Regions from separate parts of the Homo sapiens genome. Here all the other regions are linked to region 3. Evidence: fine-mapped QTL for protein levels in blood plasma. A gene starts in region 3. Each other region holds a variant in brackets. All regions are shown on one strand. Distances are from middle to middle.

Region 1 (4,359 bases), 120 kb after region 3:
AACCCCTTGTGTAATCAAAACTTCACATATAACTTTTGACTCCCCCAGAAGTTAACTACTAATAGCCTACCGTTGACCCAGAAGTCTTACCAATAACATAGTGCATATTTCGTATGTTATATATATTATATACTGTATTCTTAAAGTAAGCCAGAGAAAATAAAATGTCATGAGGAAAATCATAAGGAAGAGAAAATACATACACAGTACTGTACTGTGTTTATTGATGTTGTAAATTTATGTTGTCTGTTTACAAGATGAATAGTCTGTGTCAAATGGTGGCAACTACAGTGGCAAACCTCAATCTACAGTACAAATCAAACAGTCCAACTTTTTGTTGTAATATCATGACTTTTCGCTGCTTCTTGGGAACACTTTCAGATTGCTAGTGGCACTTCATATGGGTCCCATGGTGTTTTTGAAGGTTTACACTACTGTGCCAAACAATGAAAAATATGCAAGAACCATGAGAAATCGCTTTTTACTGCAATATGCAATTTACTGAAGACACGGAGATGATTAGTGTCACAAGTTGTTTTAAGTGGATGCTCTTAACACTTGAGTTCACTGCATAGCAAAAAGAGGTGTCTGTGAAATTATTACAGTAGTAAAGTATGTACTGCAATAAATCTTACACATTTATGATTTAATACTGCATCTTTACATTTGTTTACATTTCTCTTGACTATCAATGGCACCATGTATGTCTGTGTATATGTAAGTTTTAATACATTTTAACTTTTTATAATAGATTTGTATTTCATGATACTAAATGGTAAAATAGACTAGTATCTACACATATGTTATTCATTCGTGACACACTCAACTCTTTCTTAATATTTTCTCTATTTCTAGGCCATGTGGCTTGTCTATATGTTTTTCCACATTGTTGCAAATCTTAAAGATAATTTCAATATATTTATTTTTAAAAATTCACGTGTAAGTGGATCCACGCAGTTCAAATCTGTGTTCAAGGGTTAAATGTTTTATGATTTTTCAAAGGTTTTTCTGTGCAACACATTTTAAAAAGGTTTTCTATGTAAAATCATCTTGAATAACAAAGTGGTTATAAACTTACAAGTTCCATGCCATAAATAAATACAGGAATTAAACCAAGATTCCTTTAGCTTCCATGTGCTTTGGTTTTTATTCATGATAGGACAAACAATGGGAGCAGATTATGAGACAGAGGAATAAGAAGTTAAGCATGTATAGTATTAACTAATTGCAGTTATCAAAGAAGTAGTGAACTTGATAAGGTTATAGTAGTACTTCTGCTTCATGGAAGAAGATTGAACTATAACGTCACCACTGTGGCCATTCATCTTTCTTGAGACCATAATGAAATGAAAGTAGATAAATATTTATAAATAGGCATAAACTCATAATAATAAAAAGATTTGAAGGCAAGGGGGAGGTAATAATGGACAAGATATTTCAACAAATTTGCAGAACATAGAGTGGCTGGGAATGGCTACAGAGGGACTACAGGAAAGGTAACTGATGGAATCCCAGAGAGATTTTGGGTTCATAAACAATAGATACCAGTAAACAAATATATTCAAAGTACAGCAAAAACCAGATATTTATTCAAGGTCGTTATGTGGAACATGGGCTCTACCTGAAATCCTTATGTTCCACCTCCATCCCTGGTATTTACCACTAGAATAACTATACAGCCCTCTTTTTTAAAAAATCACATGATTTCATTGAGGAAAGTTAAAGCTTTCAATATGGATGTTAGTTTCCCAAAATAAAGTCTCCCTTCATTGTGAAATTTAACCAGGTCCACAGTCCCTCAATATCCATTCCTGATTCTGAAACAAAGCCTACCAGTTAGCCCATCCTTCCTCAAAGTATTCTACATAGAAAGCAGCCAGTCAGTATTCCCACTCAGGGGATAGAATTAGTGACAATTAGGTCTACTCAGTGGAGGAACACCTGCTATTCAGTAGAGGAAACCCACACTAGCTACCCAGAACTTTATTCTTAAGCACGGATAATTAAATAATGGTTGACT[A/G]CTACAGTGGGATAACATACAGAAATGCAAATAAATGATACATAGTTACATATAACAACATGGTTGAATCTTGAGCTATAGAAGCTGGACATGACAATACGGTTACATTTAATTAATATATTAAATATACCAATAGGCAAAATAAGCTCATAGTACTTGGGAGAGGGTATCAGATGGTAAATGTATTAAAAATTCAAAGAAGTAGTTACCCCAAAAGTTAAGATATTGGTTACTTTTTTGGTGGGTGGGAATTATGATTTTGTGGGATACATGGAAGGTATTGTTCTGACTGTGGGTTATACAAGTATTCTCTATAATAAGGAGAACATTTATGTTTTATATGCTTTTCTGTATACATGTTAAATTTCACAGTAAAAATATAGTCAAAAAAGGGATCCCACAGGAGACAGACAATTCTATAAACATTTTTAATTCTCCACTTTAGTCAAATAACTCGGAGAAGTTATATTCATAGAGTAAAAATAGGATGCTATGAAAAGGAAGCAATTAGAGAATGAAAAAAGAGTTCAGATTAAAAGTATGATTGCTGACATTAAAGCTTCAGTGAAGAGACTAAAGATAAAATTGATTTAATAAAGTTCCTGGAATATACAGGGAGAATAAAGGACTAAAATTTGAGAGAAAATAATAGAAACTCAGTCCAGGAGGTTCAATTTCCAATTAATGAGCGTTTCAGAGGAGATAACTGAGAAAGTGGAGTACAGAAAATATCAAAGAAATAGTAGAAAAGATTTTTCCCAGAGCTGAAAGATACTGATCTTTAGTTTGTACCTAGCACATTGTACCTAGCACAATGACTGTAAGAACAAACAAATAAAAAAAAGACTATACCTAAATTTAATCAGTGTTTAAGTGAAGATTCTAAACCTTGGAGAAGAGAGCTGAGTGTGAGTAAGTAAGATTGGGAACATATTAAGCCTATTAAAAATAACATCAGATTTCTTATCAATTATACTGGATGTTAGAAGGTATTGGAATGGTACTTTCAAGAAGCTCTGGGGGAAAATTATTTCCAACCTTAAATTTGATACCCGTATGAAATAAAATTAAGTGAGAGAGCATAGCAATGACATTTTCGGATGAAAGGGTTTGCATCCCACACACTTTTGTGGGAAGTTATTTCAGAATGTGATTCAGTAAAACAGGTGTAGACAAAGACTTAGGACTGAAGAAGCAATAGGCATAACTCTGGAAAGCAAGAAAAGAGAAGTGGCAAGATGACAGCTGTGGAGTATCCCTAGAAAATGACCAGATTGGGAGGAAGGTCTCTAGCGGAGTAAGGAGGGAGGGGTGACTCAGTATAAGTAACATGGTTGATAGGCTAGGATACAATAAATGATTAGGGAAAGTGATGGGAGACAATAGGAAACCAGTTAGAAAATCTGGAGAAAACTAAAAGCTATACAAGAAAGTCATAGTTAAAACATAAGGACAACTAAAATGTAGCATGATTTTACGCAGTTGATGTCTAAGAAAAGACTGGGCAGCTGATAAAATGGTAGCGTCACTGAATGAGTCAAGACATTTTAACATAACCGCAAAATAGATGTTGTAATATTGATGGGAATATTTTGTCATAGTTGTTTTGATATATACATATTTCAAAATAGTTAAAATGTAAAATCACTGCTCTCTTGTTTATTACCAAAAAATGTGCTGAAAAGGTACCACTAACCTTTACCCCATCCCAAATGCCCATTAAGTATAAGGGACTCTCCCTATCTACTCTATTCATTTCTGTATTGTTTTAATATTTTACAAGTTATGTGTTAACTTTTATGATTTTTTTGTGATTATAAAATGTGTCAATTTGTTAGAATTAATTTAGCTTCTAACTATAATCTATTGTATAAATCCATCATACATTACCATCCTTATAAAATTATTAATGTAAGTATGATGAGTATGGAAAGCTATTCAAAATTTAATTGTGAATTTCTTGTTCTATCTGAAATGTAGAATAAGACATCTTATTATTGCCCTGTCTTCTACTCCTCCAAGTGACTTCTGTAATACCCAGCCACTTAATGTTTGACATTCAGGAAGCTTTCATAAAGCAGAGGTGTCCTTTTAGATATTTAGATGGAAAATAAAGAATATCATTAATCTTAGTTGAAAGCAAATGGCTTTTTTTTTTTTTCTTGAGACAGAGTCTCACGTTATTGCCCAGGCTGGAGTGCAGTGTTGCAACTTCTGCCTCCTGGGTTCAAGGTATTCTCATGCCTCAGCCTCCCAAGTAGCTGGGATTACAGGGGTGCACCACCATGCCTGGCTAATTTTTGTATTTTTAGTAGAGATGGAGTTTCACCATGTTGGCC
Region 2 (4,359 bases), 190 kb after region 3:
ATTCTTTCTTGTATCATTTAGTTTTTAATTAACATTTTATTCAAAAAGGATATGAAGTTCTTCCTATGTTTATGTCACGAATCCACTCTTTTTTAACCTTCAAATCAACACTCTGTTTCCTATATATTCAGCTATTTGGCTGTTTTTAATAATTGTTTTCATATGTAAAATTGCTCATTACTTTTTATAGCATTTCAATTTTTTTAATAGTTTGAGGGGGTACCGATGCAGGTTCGCTTCATGGATATGTTGTGTAATGGTGAAGTTTGGGTTTCCAGCGTGTCCATCACCCCGATAGTAAACACTGTACCCAACAGGTAATTTTTCAACCCTTACCCCCTCCTACTGTTACCACTTTTGAAGTCCCCAGTGTCTGTTAGTTCCTTCTCTATGTCCATGTGTACCCACTGGTTAGCTCCCTTTATAAGTGAGAGCATGTAGTATTTGATTATCTGTTTCTGAGTTATTTCACTTATAGTAATGGCCTCCAACTCCATTTATGTTGCTGCAAAAGACATAATTTCATTTTTGTGGCTGTGTAGCACTCCATCGTGTGTGTGTGTGTATGTGTGTGTGTGTGTATATATATATAAATACAATTACCACATTTTTTATCCAGTCATCTGTAGATGGACACTTAGGTTGATTCCATGACTTTGCTATTGTGAATAGTGCTGCAATAAACATATGAAAAACTATACCATGCAAACAGAAAACAAAAATGAGCAGGAGTAGCTATATTTATGTCAGATAAAACAGACTTTAAATCAATAACTGTAAAAAAGGACAAAAGTTATTATATAATGACAAATGGTTCAATTTAACAAGAAGATATAACTATCCCAAATATATATGCACCCAATACCAAAGCACCAAGATCCATAAAACAAATACTACTAGACCTAAGAAAAGAGACAGCAATGCAATAATGGTGGGGAACTTTATCACCCCACTGACAGGACTAGACAGATCATCAAGGCAAAAAATCAGCAAAGTCTTAAACTGGACTCTAGGCCAAATGGACCTACCTAATAGACATTTACAGAACATTCTACCCAACAACTGCAAAATATACATTTTTCTTATCTGAATGTGGAACATTCTGGAAAATAGACCATATTCTTGGCCATAAGGCAAGTCTCAATAAATTTTTAAAAAATCATATGAAATATCTTTTTAGACCACTGTGAAATAAAATTAGAACTCAATATCAAGAGGAGCTCTCTAAAGTATTTGAATATATGGAAACTAAACAAGTTGCTCCTGAATGATCTTTGAGTAAATGATGAAATTAATACAGAAATTAAAAAGATGGAAACAAATGAAAAGAGACACAACACACCAAAACTTCTGGGATATAGCAAAAGCAGTGCTGGAAGCTTATAGTGTTAAATGGCTACATTAAAAAGATAGAAAGACCTAAAATCAACAACCTAATGTCACACCTCAAGGAACTAGAAAAATAAAAACAAACCAAACCAACAGCTAGCAGAAGAAAAAGAAATAGCAAAGATTAGAGCAGAATTAAGTGAGGTTGAGACAAAAAAAAAAAAAAAAAAAAACATGATATGAAGGATCAATGAAACAAAAAGTTGGTTCTTTGAAAAGATAAACATAATTGATAGACCACTGGCTAGACTAGCCAAGAAAAAGAGAGAGAAGATTCAAATAAACACAATCAGAAATCATAAAGGTGACATTACAATTGATACCACAGAAATACAAAAGATCAATTGAGACTACTTTGTACATCTCTATGCTCACAAACTAGAAACCCTAGGGGAAATGGATACATTCCTGGAAATGTACTACCTTCCAAGACTGAACTAGGAAGAAATAGAAATCCTGAACAGACCAATAGCGAGTAATGAAATTGACTAGTAATAAAAAATTTCCTGACCAAGAAAAGCCCAGGGCCAGATGAATTCACAGCCAAATTTTACCAGATGTTCAATTTTTGAATAATACAAATGCATTTTGTGTTTGGGAGTACATGTTCAAGTAACTGATAGATTTACAATGTATAAAGCACACAAGTAGATTCTCACTCCAAAAGTCATCTAAAGTGACTACTGATATTTGAAGGTGAATATTCTAATATTAGCAATAATTTGAATGGTGTGGCTTATTCACATTACTGATGATTCAGCACTAATTAGATATGGTGGTAACCCTGAAGGTCACAAGATTATTGATTAGTAAAAATTTATAGATGCCAGAAATTATGTTTAAGTATGCATTTGGCTTTTTGGCCTTTTTAAGGCTGAGGCTTAATACCAAGGCCAGAATTGAACTATATGCACCCTATTCATACTATGCACCATTTCTTAGGAGGTCTTTTACCAAAACAAAAGTATAAACCAAGAAAGTGGCTTCACATCTCCTATAGGTTCTGCATCAATCAAGTTAGTACTAAATTATGCCTTGCTTTGCTTAATATTTTTATTATTTATTTTTAGACAGGGTCTCACTCTGTTGCTA[G/A]GCTGAGTGCAGTGGCAAAATCATGCCGTATTGCAGTCTCAACCTCCCTGGTTCAAGTGATCCTCCCACCTCAGCCTCCTGAATAGCTGGGACTAAAGGAGCATGCCAGCATGTCTGGCTAATTTTTTGTATTTTTGTAGAGACGGGGCTTCACCATGTTGCCCAGGCTGGTCTCGATATCCTGGGCTCAGGCAATCTGGCTACCTTGGCCTCCCAAAGTGTTGGGAGTACAGGTATGAGCCACTGTACCTGGTCACTGCTTAATGTTTGTATAACTTAAACCTACCAACCTATTAATCTCTTTTAAAACTGTAAATGTGTTGTGGGCAGAAACCTTATCTTAGTTGTGTTTTGCCTCTTTAATTTTATAGGGAAATAATGATAATTTGGTAATTTTCCTCTAAGGATTATTTTTTTATTATTATTATTATACTTTAAGTTCTGGGATACATGTCCAGAACATGCAGGTTTGTTACATAGGTATACATGTGCCATGGTGGTTTGCTGCACCCATCAACCCATCATCTACATTAGGTATTTCTCCTAATGCTATCCCCCCACCAGCCTCTCACCCCCATAACTGGCCCCGATGTGTGATGTTCCCCTCCCTGTGTCCATGTGTTCTTATTGTTCAACTACCACTTATGAGTGAGAACATGTGGTGTTTGGTTTTCTGTTCCTGTGTTAGTTTGCTGAGAATGATGGTTTTCAGCTTCATCCATGTCCCTGCAAAGGACATGAACTCATCCTTTCTTATGGCTGCATAATATTCCATGATGTATATGTGCCACATTTTCTTAATCCAGTCTATCACTGATGGGCATTTGGGTTGGTTCCAAATCTTTGCTATTGTGAATAGTTCTGCAATAAACATATGTGTGCATGTGTCTTTATAGAATGATTTATAATCCTTTGGGTATATACCCAGTAGTGGGATTGCTGGGTCAAATGGTATTTCTGGTTCTAGATCCTTGAGGAATCACACACTGTCTTCCACAATGGTTGAACTAATTTACACTCCCACCAACGGTGTAAAAGCGTTCCTATTTTTCCACATCCTCTTCAGCATCTGTTGTTTCCTGACTTTTTAATAATCACCATTCTAACTGGTATGAGATGGTATGACCTTTTGGTTTTGATTTGCATTTCTCTAATGACCAATTATGATGAGCTTTTTTTCATATGTTTGTTGGCCGCATAAATGTCTTCTTTTGAGAAGTGTCTGTTCATATCCTTTGCCCACTTTTTGATGGGGTTGTTTGTTTTTTTCTTGTAAATTTGTTTAAGTTCCTTGTGATTCTAGATATTAGCCATTTGTCAGATGGATAGGTTGAAAAGAAGAAGATATGTAATTCAGGAAACAGTTTCAACTTAAGAGACAGAAGGAGAAAAACTCAAAATGACGGTGAAAGGAGATTTCAGGATAACAGCTGTGTACGAAGTATAGATGTCAACCAGTCCAGAGTGGAGTATGGTCAAATGGATCCAGAGATAGAGCTCCAGGAAGTGGAAAATGATGGAATACCCTCATTTATTTGAGTGATTGAGAGGAGTTTTCAGTGGATAGGTGAAAGCTGGGGTTGTATCAGTGATAAGTGTATAGAAAACTATATGAGATGCAAGCTCCCTACATCTCTTGTAGCTATTCTTGAAGCTAGGCCAACTAGCCATTCCTTCAGAGTTTTTCTCCTTCCGTCTCTTCCAGGGTTGGATAAAACACTACAGCACAGGGTGTGAGATCTAGGATCTCAAGTGGGCAGCCCATGAAGGGACTGGGTTAATGCAATCTAGAAGTACAAGGGAATACATTCACATGAGATGAATTTTACCAAACAAGAATCCAGAGACAAGAAGGAGCCTGGAGGACAAATCACTTTT
Region 3 (4,000 bases):
ATATGTAATACTATGTATACAGTATTTTCATTGCTGGTGTAGGAGTGTGATAACTGACGGTATCATCAATGACTTTAAAATTGCTGGCTGCATTTGGACATCTGCAATAACCCCTAAATTGTTTTTACTCTCATGAAGGAAAAATGAATTTTGCAAAACAGACAAGCAAAGGAAAAGGGGTCTTCTCCATCAGCAATGAGGTCTTACTTGCTTAAGCTATACTTGTCAACTAGGTTATGTCAGGTTTCATGATTGAAATCTCTTGTGGTTAAGTCTAGTGTTAACCTAGGTAATATTTATTTTTCAAGATTTATATAACTTGCTATTTCATTCAGAGTTCAGTATTTATTTCCCCTGAACTTTTCATGGAAACTAATGATCTCAACAGTAGGAAAACAGTGTGTTCTTCCCCGCCTCCCCACCGCCCCCCCCACTTTGGCTTACGGAGTCTCAACATTAGAGACTTATTCTTAAATTTGGCACATTTTATAAAGACATATTGGGAAGGCTAAAAGTTTCTTATATCTACTCTTCACAAATGTTCAACATAAATCTCACTAGGGACCGGGCACTCCTTGCTTACCAGTCTCCCTGGGTGAACTGGTGAGAGGTGGCCCTCAATATTTTTACTTTTTATTTGGTGAAGCAGGATCAATGACAATGACTTTTGTCATGTGGTAGGCAGTTAGATATGCAGAGCTTCTAGAAATAATGCAGACTGGGAGACTGGAATGTAGTTACAAGTGTGCCAATGAACATGAGACTTTTCTGCTTGATTTTTAAGCTAAGGCTGACTTACTCTCCTGACATTTAAGGGCCTCCTCTCCAATTCCCAGTCATCAGTAAAGGATGTGTACAGGGAATGACAATATTAGAACAAAAACAACCTGCAAGTAAATCGGATGCAAGAGTCTATGTATCTTGCAAGGAAATCTTTTGCACTTAATCACAACATGGCTCTCCTCAATACTACGGAGAACAGAATTGATTCAGATTGTTTTTAAGCCTGAACGTAAACAATATTGTCGCCTTTTTGGGTTTCAGCACCTCCTTATTCATCCATTTTCTCTTTTATGGGAAGGGGGTTGATGAGGTGTGTGAAGATGATAGAACGTGCCCCAGAAACTGAACAATGAAGAGACGCCTGTCATATCGGGGGTACCTAGATTCCTCTGAAAGGAAGCCCAGCTGAAGGAGCAGGGTCACCACTTTATTTTAAAAACGTAACATGGCACATGTTGGTGCTCTATTAATCGAGCCTCGGGGGCCCAATAACGTGAGCATGGGCTGCTGCGTGGAAGTTTGAGACCCTGTTGCTGAATCCTCGGGCCTGACGGTCTATCGCTGAAGACAAGACTTCCAAAGAATCACAGTAAACGTTAACCTAAGCCATCAGAAGCCATTAACTCCGGTGACACTACATTTCAGCGAAACCTTCGCGACCCAACCCCTCGCTCCCTCTCGCCCAAACGCTGGGTCAACCCCACGAACTGGCGGTGGCAAGGCCCTGGGCACCGGTGAAGTTCTCGTGGCAGCGCAGATCGGCGACCTTCTCTTCTTTCGCGCTCAGACGGCGGCGGCAGCAGTACGCTTTCGGGCTGCTGGAGCCGGCAGCGGCGCGAGGCCGGAGCCCGGGCAGCCAGGCTGGGTGGGGGAGGGGCGGCGGCAGCGGAGCCGGGAGCGTGCGCGCGCACCTCACACTCCGCCGCCCGGGGACGCCCACTCGCGAGCCGGGGCCGGTAGGCCGGCCCGGGTCCCATCGCCCCCGCCCTCCGGTTCCTCTCCGGCGTGAGCCCAACGGGTGTCGGCCCAGCAGCTGCTGCGCTCACCAGGCCTGGGGAGGCAGGGTACGGGGACCGGGCCGCAGCCCCGAGCGGCGTGGGCGCGCTGCCTCTCTGGCAGCCGCCGCCAGAGCCAGCAGCTGCGAGCCACCGGAGGCGGCGCGGAGGAGGCCCCCGCGGCCGGGCAGGAAGGAGACGCGGCCGACCTCTGCCCGCCCGAGGCGCGGCTGCTCCCGCGCGCCCAGGCCCTCCCGCCGCTCCAGGGCTGAGTGAGGAATGAGCCGGCGCCTACCCCGGGCTCTCGGAGCGTGGGCCCCGGCTCGGCTTCTTAGGCGCGAGGGCTCGGCCACTGCGGCCGGCGGCCTAGCTCGGGGAGCAGGCGCCGGGGTTCACTGAACCGGCCGCGGAGAGGAGGAGGAGGAGGAGGAAGAGGAGGAGGAGGAGGAGGAGGAGCTCGGCGGGGGCGGCCGCCGCGCCTCCCCTCCCCCAGGACACGCCGGGGCTTCTCAGTGGCCGCCGGAGGAGGAAGTTCCGCTCCCTGACAGACCCGTGCGGTAGCAACAGCGGCGGCGGCCGCGGCGGCTGGCCGGACTCAGGTGTTTCGGACGCTATTGCCCTTCGCGCCAGCCGTCGAGTGGGCAGCAGCGGGACTCAGCCGGGCGCCAGGTTCCTGCCAGGCAGCGCCGGGAAGCGCGGGCGGCCGAGAACTCCTTCCTGCTACTTCGCCCAGCGCCGCTGCTTCGGCTTCCCAGCGAAGTGGGAGACCTTCCTCCCTGTTTGCAGACGTCCGTGGGAGACCCTTATTTTTTCCACCGCTAAGGTTAAGAGATTCTGGAATAGAAGCGTCGAAGGAGATCAAGTGAACCTTCTACAACTCCTCGGATGTCGCCAGTCTCCCTTTCGGGGCGGAAGACTACGTTTGAGCATCTCACTGAGGTGCAGGAATGGAAGAACCCACCTTGCAGCTTTTCTGCAGTGTGGCTTGCCTGATCTACCCCTAGGAATGAAGAGGAGGCTTGTAATAATCCGATGAAGTACAGATGTTGAAGAGGATATCGCAGGACCTAAACTTGTGATCGTTTGGGGGAGGTCACACACGTTTCTGAGTGGGAATGGATGGGCGTGAATGACGTGCCCTCTTAAAAAGCACAACAGTCCTTTAAGAGGAGCAAAATTGAGTTTTCCCATTTTGGCCAAGATTTTGAAGACAGTTCAATGTATTCTACATTTGACATAAGATGAGAACTTTCTAAAGTATTCTCTCCAAGAGCGTAAACGATGACTACCCCAGCCCTGCTGCCCCTCTCTGGACGTAGGATACCACCTCTGAACCTGGGGCCGCCTTCCTTCCCACATCACAGGGCTACCTTGAGACTTTCTGAGAAGTTTATTCTTCTCCTTATTCTTAGTGCCTTCATCACTCTGTGTTTTGGGGCATTCTTTTTCCTTCCAGACTCTTCAAAACACAAACGCTTTGATTTGGGTTTAGAAGATGTGTTAATTCCACATGTAGATGCCGGTAAAGGGGCTAAAAACCCCGGAGTCTTCCTGATCCATGGACCCGATGAACATAGACACAGGTTTGTTTATTTCAGAAGTTCTGGTACTAACATTTGGCAGAGCAAGGTACGGTGATTGGATCGAATCTGTCTTTTTTTTTTCTTGCAGTAAAATGTAATTTTTCGAGTCATAAATATTGTATTGTTACTTCAAGACTGGCTGAATAAAACCATAGACTGGAGGGACTCTACCTCCAGTCTATGGTAGAGTCCATAGACTGGTAGGACTGGAGTCCTACCTAAGTCGTTCTTCTCTTCGGTTTTATATAAGAAAAACATTTGCGTTCAGAGTTGTGTCTAATGTGGACATCTGGGAAGGGAGGTATGAAAACTTAACCTAAAGAAATGGTGACATAAGCTGTGCCTGCATTTATTAATAACGTGTTGGAGTCAGTCATTGTGCCACCATGTGAAATCAAAGCATCGAACCTTGACAGCTCTTTTGGGTGTGCTCTCCCAGAGGGCTCTCGTTTTCTGGCTTGTAGTTGAAGCTTAGTAGTGAGTCAGCTTTTTAGGATGACAAACGTGGGCAGAATATACCTGTCATTTCTTAACGTGAAAATATCCTGATTTTTGTTCTTTTTTTGGGGATGTGTGTTGGTGCTGTATATGAAATCAGTTAAGTTAAAAGGTATTGAATCCTAAGTTATTGCACTTTGT

Alleles and levels. Positions count from the first base shown, and alleles are read on the strand shown. Strength reflects both the effect of a copy and how common the allele is.
For the plasma level of the protein whose gene starts at base 2,325 in region 3, allele G in region 1 goes with a lower level than allele A (moderate association).
For the plasma level of the protein whose gene starts at base 2,325 in region 3, allele A in region 2 goes with a higher level than allele G (moderate association).

The links. PIP is the posterior inclusion probability: the model's chance that the variant is causal. The UK Biobank Pharma Proteomics Project read protein levels with antibody pairs (Olink). The fine-mapping took linkage between variants from a reference panel, not from the people measured, so its PIPs are less certain.
Region 1: its variant is fine-mapped to the plasma level of the MAN1A2 protein (UK Biobank, PIP 0.90).
Region 2: its variant is fine-mapped to the plasma level of the MAN1A2 protein (UK Biobank, PIP above 0.99).

Annotation. Positions count from the first base shown.
Region 1 is chr1:117,484,046-117,488,404 of GRCh38, forward strand. The region is part of intron 8 of MAN1A2 (mannosidase alpha class 1A member 2); the gene reads left to right. Among named protein-coding and RNA genes, the nearest start is that of MAN1A2, 120 kb to the left of the region's middle. The variant A/G (reference allele first, on the strand shown) is at 2,021.
Region 2 is chr1:117,551,525-117,555,883 of GRCh38, forward strand. No RefSeq gene overlaps it. Among named protein-coding and RNA genes, the nearest start is that of TENT5C-DT, 52 kb to the right of the region's middle. The variant G/A (reference allele first, on the strand shown) is at 2,482.
Region 3 is chr1:117,365,125-117,369,124 of GRCh38, forward strand. MAN1A2 (mannosidase alpha class 1A member 2) reads left to right here and starts at 2,325. Exons shown (of 13, transcript NM_006699.5): 1 at 2,325-3,361. The coding sequence starts at 3,060. RefSeq lists a silencer at 1,561-2,380 and an enhancer at 3,251-3,390.